Homo sapiens: one gene and its partner. The protein of the gene in region 1 interacts with the protein of each later gene in a pairwise test. Each region holds a gene or a part of one and is shown in the gene's direction. Other genes may lie near its edges.

Evidence for each region. The genes of interacting proteins can lie anywhere in the genome.
Region 2: the proteins of GALNT11 (region 1) and SGTB interact in binary tests that used the Homo sapiens proteins (3 or more experiments, as listed by UniProt).

What each region holds. Positions count from the first base shown.
Region 1 is NC_000007.14:152,111,616-152,117,227, forward strand, and holds part of GALNT11 (polypeptide N-acetylgalactosaminyltransferase 11), read left to right. Parts: intron 1-1,630; coding exon 1,631-1,783; intron 1,784-5,288; exon of another isoform or gene 5,289-5,423; intron 5,424-5,541; coding exon 5,542-5,612. UniProt on the Homo sapiens protein: Polypeptide N-acetylgalactosaminyltransferase that catalyzes the initiation of protein O-linked glycosylation and is involved in left/right asymmetry by mediating O-glycosylation of NOTCH1.
Region 2 is NC_000005.10:65,680,610-65,685,165, reverse strand, and holds part of SGTB (small glutamine-rich tetratricopeptide repeat-containing protein beta), read left to right. Parts: intron 1-4,371; coding exon 4,372-4,510; intron 4,511-4,556. UniProt on the Homo sapiens protein: Co-chaperone that binds directly to HSC70 and HSP70 and regulates their ATPase activity.

The sequences.
Region 1 (5,612 bases):
CTGTGTGTGTGTGTATATATATATATATATTTTTTTAAATTATAAAAGTATTGTTGTAATGAATGGTTGGATATAAATTTAAAATGTCTTAATGTGCTAATTTAAAGGTTTGTTCTTTTTTTGTTGGTTTATTTTATTGATACTACCAGATACATATAGTCATATAGTCAGGGTGACCAGATTTCCCTGAGGCCTAAGACCATCCTAGTTCATACCTGTTCTCTTGGAAAAATAAATAGCTTCCCATTGTACTTTCAGAAACAGCTCAGTTTGATGCTGCATTATACCATCACCCCATGTATAGCTTACCAAGTCCTTTGTGTATACAGGCACCCCTGTCCCGAGGAGGAAATCCACCTCGCATTATCTGTCTTCTCCAATTGCTAAGGTTTGAAAGGTGACAGCATAGGTGGAGTCTGTGGCTCAGAGGACCATGGTGTAGACAGTCTTTGGGAAAGGCAGAAAGAGGGCGAGGGGAGAGCTGAGACTTCTCCTTCCAAGCAAATATCCCAGTATTTCTCCCAACCATCTCCTAGTCCAGTTAGCAGAATCCCTATCAGATAATACCATGATACTTGTTCATATGTCCTTCTGTATTTCTGCAAATGTATTGACTACAGTATTTTTAAAAAGCAAGTTTTGGCTGGGTCCATGGTGGCTCACGCCTATAATCCCAGCACTTTGGGAGGCCAAGGTGGGCTGATCCTGAGGTCAGGAGTTCAAGACCAGCCTGGCCAACATGGTGAAACCCCGTCTCTACTAAAAATACAAAAAAATTAGCTGGGCGTGGTGGCGGGTGCCTGTAATCCCTGCTACTCGGGAGGCTGAGGCAGGAGAATCGCTTGAACCTGGGAGGCAGAGGTTGCAGTGAGCCAAGCGCCACTGCACTCTAGCCGGGGGGACAAGAGCGAGACTGTGTCTCAACAAAAAAAAAAAAAGAAAAAGCAGGTTTTCATTCTGTAAGTTTTAGAATGTTAGGGTTAAAGGCGTAATAGATTTTATTATGCTTCTTATTTAATAGATTTTATTATTAAAAGTTCAGTCTCTTTTTAGATAAGGCAATCTAATCCCACAAAAACGAACTTAACTCCAAAGTAATTCAGATAGTCAAGGACAGAATTTAGACCAGAGCTAAGGTCTTTTGAATCTTAATCTGGAGTTATTCTATATATTTTATATTAAAAAATCTGTTTTCCAAAAAAGAATATGCATTGTATAAGCAAGTACCTGTGAAACTAAAATGAGAGAACAGGTAATAAGCACTTCTTAAAAGAAAATAAATAAATAAATAAATAAAAATAAGCACTTCTTGTTCTTAAGTGCCTAAGATCAAGTCTCTTGATCTGTTAAAGCAACAAAGTTGGGTAAGTGCAATTTCAGACTTATGGTAGTAAATGCTGACTATAGCATTGTTTTAGCATTTAGTTCCTTGTAATGATAAAGACAGACAATTTCTAACAATGTGTACCTTCTCATTTCCTTCTATTTGAATATTTGTATCTAATAAGATAAATATCTTGCCAAGTTTCATAAACACCTATTGAATAAAGATTAATTTCATTGAAAATTCATACATTGGTTTCACAACAACATGAGGCAACTGTTAACACCTGTTTTTGCTTCTGGCCAGATCTGGATGTGTGGCGGTAAGCTCTTCATCATCCCTTGCTCTAGAGTAGGACACATTTTCCGAAAAAGGCGACCATATGGATCTCCCGAAGGCCAGGACACCATGACACACAACTCTTTGCGGCTGGCACATGTCTGGTTGGATGAATACAAGGTGAGATGAAATTTCTTGTTTAGAAGGATGAATGATAGGCCGGCAGTGACTGGCCTAGTGATAGCTTTAGTTGCTTACTTTTCACTCTGGCATATTTCTCTTGGTTAACCTTCACCTTAGGGCCAACTCTTTCTAGTTTCCCCCCACCCCCTTCACCTAGTACTTCACTTCTTTCTGGTTCTAATCTGACTCTTTTAATTTTGTAAGTGTCTACTCCATAAGAAGTAATGCGGCTAATGTTGGAAGAAATTCCATCTTCAGTTTCTTTATTCCGTCTGGTCTCTCTATTGTGACGCCTGCAAAAGTTGGCTTTCTTTTTTTTTTTTTTTTTTTTTTTTTTTTTTTTTTTTTTTTTTGAGACAGGGTCTTGCTTTGTCACCCAGGCAGGAGTGCAGTGGTGTGATCACGGCTCACTGCAGCCTCAGTCTCCTGGGCTCAAGTGATCCTACTGCTTCAGCCTCCCAAGTAGCTGGGACTATAGGCATGTGCTACCATGCCTGGATAATTTTTTTTAAAAAGTGTTTTTTTTTTTGTTTGTTTGTTTTTTTAGAGATGGGATCTCACTGTGTTGCCCAGGCTGGTCTTGAGCTCTTGGGCTCAAAAGATCCTCCTGCCTTGGCCTCCCGAAGTGCTGGGACTACGTGTGTGAGCCACTGTGCCAGGCCTGGCCTTTTCTTTTACTCATTGGACTTCGTGGTGACCCAATCCCGTTTCTTCCCCTGTTAGAGGGCACATTTAGAATTACTTCCCACTTTCTCTTCTGCCTTAGGTCACTTTATATATTTTCTTTGTAATGATTTATTGAAGTATAATCCAAAAATTGATTTTGGAATATTTTATCACTGCAAAAAGAAGTCCATAGCCTTCGATCATCTCCCCAAAGTCTCCCTCTCTGCCTCAGCCCTAGACAGCCAATAAGCAACCATTAATCTACTCCTTGTCTCTACTTAATTTGCCTTTTCTGGATATTTCCTACAAATGGAATCATAAACTATGTGGTCTTTTCTGTCTGGCTTCTTCAGTTGAGCATGGCGTTTTCAGGTTCATCCGTGCCGTTCCATGTATGGGTCTGCATTCCTTTTTATTGCCAAATAATATTCCATTGTATGAACAGACCACATTTTACTTTATCCACCAGCTGATCAACATTTAGGTTGTTTCCACTTTTTTTTTTTTTTTGAGACAGAGTTTCACTCTTGTTGCCCAGGCTGAAGTGCAACGGCGCAATCTCGGCTCACTGCAACCTCCACCTCCTGGGTTCGAGTGATTCTCCTGCCTCAGCCTCAGCCTCCCGAGTAGCTGGGATTACAGGTGTGAGCCACCACGCCTGGTTGCTGCTGTATTTGTGTATAGCTATTTTTTAAACATTTGTTGTGCACCTCCTGTATGCCAGGCTCTGTGTTAGGGCGTGAGCCACCACGCCTGGTTGCTGCTGTATTTGTGTATAGCTATTTTTTAAACATTTGTTGTGCACCTCCTGTATGCCAGGCTCTGTGTTAGGTTTTGGGGGATAAAAGATGAATAAGGAAGTGCACAGTAATTTTTCACACCGTGAGGGAAATGTCAACAGAGACATGTAGCTTGTGCTGGAATGACAGGGACACAGTGGTGCACTGTGTTTGGGGGCAGTAGGGACTCCACAGTGCTTCTCCTACAGCACTGTTTATCTCCCCTCTCCCTCCTTGACCAGACTTTGAGGTCTAATTCCATGCTCATCTCTGAATCATCACTGGCTACCATAGTTCTCAACACATGGTCCCACTCCTAGCCACTCTTTGAGGAGGTCTGCCAGTTTAAACTCATTTTCATAGTCAGGTTAATACAGTATTTGCCTCTTTGACCGTGTTGACATTGCACTGAGTGTGTAAAATCAGGGGAGTAAAGTGGCTGGTGCCTTAGCATAAATCGAGGCATCAGCACCCAGTTATACTGTAGTCACTGCATTCTTCACCAGCACTCACTCAGAAGACAAAGGCCAGCTGCATTTCCGAATATCATTGATATAATAATAATTTTAGTAAATCTCAATGTGCCTTTTTAGTATCCTGTGTGAGTATGCGTGCTCATACAAAAAGCACTTCTGCTGTGTACTGAAGTACGGTGCTTGGTTCAAGGAAAAACACTTGTGCAGTTGTTTGAGTTATGGGCGGAGCTAGCGGCTGCTCTCCAGAACACTCTTTTTATATGTTAAGACTGACTCACAAACCATAGTTACTCGTATTTGGGTAAAACGAACTAAATAATGAAAATGAAAACAACTGACAGTATTTGTTGCAAATGACAAAATTCAAGCCCTCAAGTGAAAATTAGAATTTTGAAAAACTTACATTTACCGCCAGGAGCTTGACAGCTTCCTAGTACTTAAAAATTTTACTTGGCCGGGTGCGGTGGCGCATGCCTGTAATCCCAGCACTTTGCGAGGCCGAGGCAGGAGGATCACCTGAGGTCGGGAGTTTGAGACCAGCCTGACCAACATGGAGAAACCCCATCTCTACTAAAAATACAAAATTAGCCGGGTGTGGTGGCGCATGCCTGTAGTTCCAGCTACTCAGGAGGCTGAGGCAGGAGAATCGCTTGAACCTGGGAGGTGGAGGTTGTGGTGTGCCGAGATCGTGCCATTGTACTCCAGCCTGGGCAACAAGAGTGAAACTCCATCTCAAAAAAAATTTACTGAGGAGATCAGTGGTTTTATATATAATTTTTTGATATTGTATAGTGAAATTTTTCAATATTTGGTAGAACAGTACAATCCAGTGGAGTAGTATTTTCCAAATGACTAATCCACACTGTTACAAAAACGGGTGGAAGATCCATTCAGAGAGCAAGACAGACCAGGAGATATTATTTAACTTTATTTATCTTTGTTTTTTGAATCAGAGTCTTACTCTGTTGCCCAGGCTGTAGTGCAGTGGCACGATCTCAATTCACTGCAACCTCCACCTCCCAGGTTCAAGTGATTCTGCAGCCTCGGCCCCCAAGGAGCATGCGCCACCACTCCCAACTAATTTTTGTATTTTTTCGTAGAGACACGGTTTCACCATGTTTGGCCAGGCGGGTCTCAAACTCCTGACCTTAAGTGATCCGCCTGCCTTGGCCTCCCAAAGTGCTGGGATTACAAGTGTGAGCCACTGCGCCTGGCCGATAGACCAGTACATTTTAATGCAACAGTGTAAAAATCTTAATATGATTTCATATTCCACATCGTAACTAGACTTCGAAAGTTATTGAATTTTGGAGTAGTATTAACCCCATAATTATATATAGGTTGTAATTTTAAAAATACATATATTTAACCAAAACAACACACTGCAACAGGCTAAATGCAGATGTGAGAATTTAGCTGGCTTGTTTTAAGCCAGCCAGCCAGCAAAAAGGTTTGCAAAAATAGAAAGCAGTGTCACTGTTCTCACTACATTTTGTGTTTGTAATGAGTATTTAATTATTTTAAGGAATTAATAATTTGTAGGTTTCTCTGTTTTAATTTCTGTGTGATAAATATGAACAGACACAGCCCACACACGCAGACCCTCCTGGGAGTTTTCCGTAATTTTTAAGAACATCGATGACTGAGACTCACGAGTTTGAGACCCACTGATCTCATATATACGCCTGTTTCATTGATTCTCAGATACAGTTTAAGGTACATGTTATTATCATTGTTAGTAATGGACTTAATCGTGTAAAAAATCTCTATATAGTTGTATCATCATTTTTAACAAAAAATTCGATTTTCTTATTTTTACTTTTTTTAAATTCAGGAGCAGTATTTTTCCTTAAGACCTGACCTGAAGACGAAAAGCTATGGCAATATCAGTGAGCGTGTGGAACT
Region 2 (4,556 bases), on another chromosome or scaffold:
ATATAACCGTACCACAAATCTCAGATGAGCACTCAATATTGCAGACAGTTAGGCAGACAGTTCTATTATTTTTCCTTCTATAGTCACCTTTCCACTCGCTGATGTGACGATTTCATACCTCTTCCTCTCCCTTCAAATTTCCACTACCCCCTCTCTGGTGACTCTCAACTGATGCTATTGCCTTACACTTAATTGAGAAGCTAGATGCTTTTTGAAGGAAAACAACTCATTTTCCTCCTTGCAAATCCATCAGTCTGCCTACATTTGTATCTACACAGAATGCCCTTTTTTCTTGTTAAAATGGAAGCATTCTGGCTGGGCGTGGTGACTCACGCCTGTAATCCCAGCACTTTGGAAGGCCAAGGTGGGCAGATCACTTGAGGTCAGGAGTTTAAGACCAGCCTGCCCAACATGGTGAAACCCCGTCTCTACTAAAAATACAAAAATTAGCCAGGCATGGTGATGAGCACCCGCAGACCCAGCTACTCAGGAGGCTAAGGCAGGAGAATCACTTGAACCTGGGCGGCAGAGGTTGCAGTGAGCTGAGATAGAGCCACTGCACTCCAGTCTGGGTGACAGATTGAGACTCTGTCTCAAAAAAAAAGAAGCATTCTTACCTAAGACCATTGCCTCCACTCATGCTTTAAGATCCCATTCCCTTGTACCTTCTCCACAACTTTGCAACTATTACAATCCCCTTCATTTTCTACAACATTAGATCTTCCATCTCTAATAGATGATAATGGTTGGCATGTGATCAGGTCATAAAAAGTCATTCACTGAGCCAGGTGCAGTGGCTAACACCTGTAATCCCAGCATTTTGGGAGGCCAAGGTGGGAGAAATGCTTGAGCCCAGGAGTTCAAGACCAGCCTGGGCAACATAGCAAGACCCCATCTCTATAAAAATACAAAAATTATCCAGGAGTGGTGGGGTACACCTGTAGTCCCAGCTACTTGGGAGGCTGAGGTGAGAAGATTGCTTGAGTCTGGGAAGTCGAGGCTGTGGTGAGCCGTGATCGTGTCACTGCACTCCAGCCTGAGTGACAGAGTGAGACCCTGTCTCAAAAAAAAGAAAAAAAATCATTAGTTGGACCCATCCCTTTACCCAGCGTTCCCCTCTAGCCACCATCCCACTTCTCAGTTCCTCGTTCTCTGCCCCTGATGGTTATCTGTACTTGCTGTTTCATCTTTGTCATCTCTTTTTTTCTTTTTTTTTTTTTGAGACAGAGTCTCGCTCTGTCACCCAGGCTGCAGTGCAGTGGCGCGATCTCAGCTTACTGCAAGCTTTGCCTCCTGGGTTCACGCCATTCTCCTGTCTCAGCCTCCCGAGTAGCTGGGACTACAGGCACCCGCCACCATGCCCAGCTAATTTTTTGTATTTTTAGTAGAGACGGGGTTTCACTGCGTTAGCCAGGATGGTCTCGATCTCCTGACCTCACGATCCACCCACCTCGGCCTCCCAAAGTGCTGGGATTACAGGCCACTATTAACTTATTGTCAAAATACATCACTCTCTAGGATCCTGACACTACACTTGCCCTGTTTCCCCTTCCACTTTACTGGATGCTCTTTTCCAGTCTCCCTTGCTTGTTCTTCCTCTCTACCATCTCTAAACAATGCTGTATTTTAGGGTTGCATCCTCTGCTGCTGCTGTTTCTTTGTCTTCTCTCTGCTCAGTTTATCCTGCTCCATGCTTTTAAAATTCATCTACAGTTGATACTCATTATTTGCAGATTCTGTATTTATGAATTTGCCTACTTGCTAAATTAATTTGTAATCCCCAAATCAATATTTACACTGCTTCTGTGGTCATTCATGTACATGCACAATTAGTGAAAATGTGTCTTCTGATGCTCTCGATCTCAACTGAGGGTGAATAAGGTGATGCTCTATCTTTTTGTTTCAGCTCTCATGCTGAAACAGTCTATTTAGTGCTACATTTTTTTTTGTATTTTTGTGCCTTTTATTTGTGATTTTGCTGTTTACAGTGGCCCCCAACTATAGGCTGAAGTGTTATCTAGTATTCCTAAGTGCAAGAGGACTGTAATGTGCCTTATGGAGAAAATATATTTATGAGACAAGCTTCATTCAGGCATGAGTTAGTGCCGTTGGCTATGAGTTCAATGCTAATGAATAAAATATATATATTAAATAAAGTTTCTTTAATCAGAAACACACATAAAAACAAGATTATATATTGATCAGTTGATGAAAATATGACTATTTACAACAGTTGCAGGAACCTAACTCTGTATTTTCCCTAGGAACAATTGTTCAGTATTTGCTAATTCATTGTTCATGGTGACTTTATAGAACAGGACTACTGTGAATAAGAATCAACTATATATATTATCGGATCTAATTTATATGTTTGAACTCCGTACTCATATATTCTACTACTCTTCAACTCTATGTTTGGATGTTTAATAGGTATTTAAACTTAACATGTCCCAGACAGAACTCATGTTCCCTTCCAAAATCTTTCCAATCTCAATACATTGTACAATTAGTTATCTATCCCATGCACAGGTCAGAAGCCTAAGAGTCATCCTTCATTGTTATTACGCCTGACATAAGTACTGATACTCTGTCATCAAGTCCTGTCAATTCTAGTTTCTGTATATATCTTGAATCCAAGTGTTGATCGCTATCTTACATATAGCCCCAGTCCAAACTACATCTCTTACCTAAGCTACTGCAATAGCTTCCTAACCGATCTCCCTGCCTCCATTCTACCCTTCTGCCCATGTAGATCCTCTACGTAGAAGCCAGAGTGAGCTTTCAAAAGCACAAATTGTATCATGTGACTCCATTGCAACCAGAATAAAGTTCAAACTCCAAGCAATGGTCCTCTATCATCTGGCACCCAACTGTTCTCTGACATCATCTCTCCATGCTTTGTTTTCTGTGTTCCCTCCTCATCAGCCCTTGTCCTGTTCCTTAAGAATACCAAGCTTGCATCTTTCTTGGGACCTTTCTGTTTACTGCTATTTCCACTACAATGCTCCTCCCTCATTTTCATGACTGCTTTCTTTACATCACTCAGATCTTTCCAATGTGGCTACTTTTTGAGCAGCTCTCCTATTCATTCCTTTAATATTGCCCTTTTTATTTGCATGCTTGTTGCCTGTCTTCCCCAGGTAGAATGAAATTTTCTTAAAGACAGAAAACTTTATCTTTTTTTTTTTTTGAGATGGAATTTCGCTCTTGTTTTCCAGGCTGGAGTGCAATGGCACAATCTCGGCCCACTGCAACCTCCGCCTCCTGGATTCAAGCAATTCTCATGCCTCAGCCTTCCTAGTAGCTGGGATTACAGGCGTCTGCCACCATGCTTGGCTAATTTTTGTATTTTTAGTAGAGACAGGGCTTCACCATGTTGGCCAGACTGGTCTCAGACTCCTGACCTCAAGTGATCCACCCACCCTGGCCTCCCAAAGTGCTGCTGGGATTAGAGACGTGGGCCACTGCGCCCAGCCAGGATCCTCAGTATCTTTAGATATTATTTTAATAATATTCTTATACATCATAGAGTTTCAGTAAATAGTTACTGACTTGACTCTTGATTAACTGGGGACTCTGATAAAGTATCATACATGGTTGACTGGTAGAAAATGAATTAGGTTCCGATAAAGAGAAAAAGAGAAAAGAAAACAGTAATTTGTTTAAAACAAACCTAAAACAAACAGAAACCCCTAATACTATGTCACCATATATACAGTTATTGTTTAGTTCTATAATAATTTTTCAATAAGTAAATTATAACTAGGTAAATATGAACATTAAAATTTAATACCTCTTTGACTTGTGCCTGGTATAATTTGTTATTTGAATTGTAAAGGATGCTAATTTTATCTACCTCTTTTGATCAGGAATAGTTATCTAATAACTACAGCCTGTTTTCTTAATGGAAAATTGATATTAATTGTTCCTCTGTTAGGAAGAAGAAAGCATGTAGGCCATTTTGAAGCACAAATACAGTTTAGAGTCCTTAAAAATGGTGTTAGCATCATGGATTTATGTGACCACATGATTGTCAACTCACATCTTTTGGAACTTAGTCTAGGCATTTATAAAGCAAATTATTTTACATATTAAGCTTAAAAATGGTAGAGTAAGTAAGATAATCTCTAAGCATTAAATTCATGATCTATAGGACAACCAGGTTATCAGCAAGCAGAATGGAGTGAGTTCAGATATATAGAATCTTAAGTTGGAGGGAATTTTGCTCCCGTGAGCCATAGTACAGTGAATAAATTAAGTGTAATCTGGATTAGAACTGAATACCAAGACAGACAGACGTTTGACGATGTTTGTGATGTCCTGATGTTCTTTAATCATATATCTGATATTCTTATATTCTATTCCCTTCAGGCTGGCCCTCACTGCCTTGAATAAATTTGAAGAAGCAGTTACAAGTTATCAAAAGGCATTAGATCTTGACCCTGAAAATGATTCCTATAAGTCAAATCTGAAAATAGCAGAACAGAAGTTAAGAGAGGTATCCAGTCCTGTAAGTTGTTAATGCCAAATGAGTGAAGTATTTTCTGTCATTCACA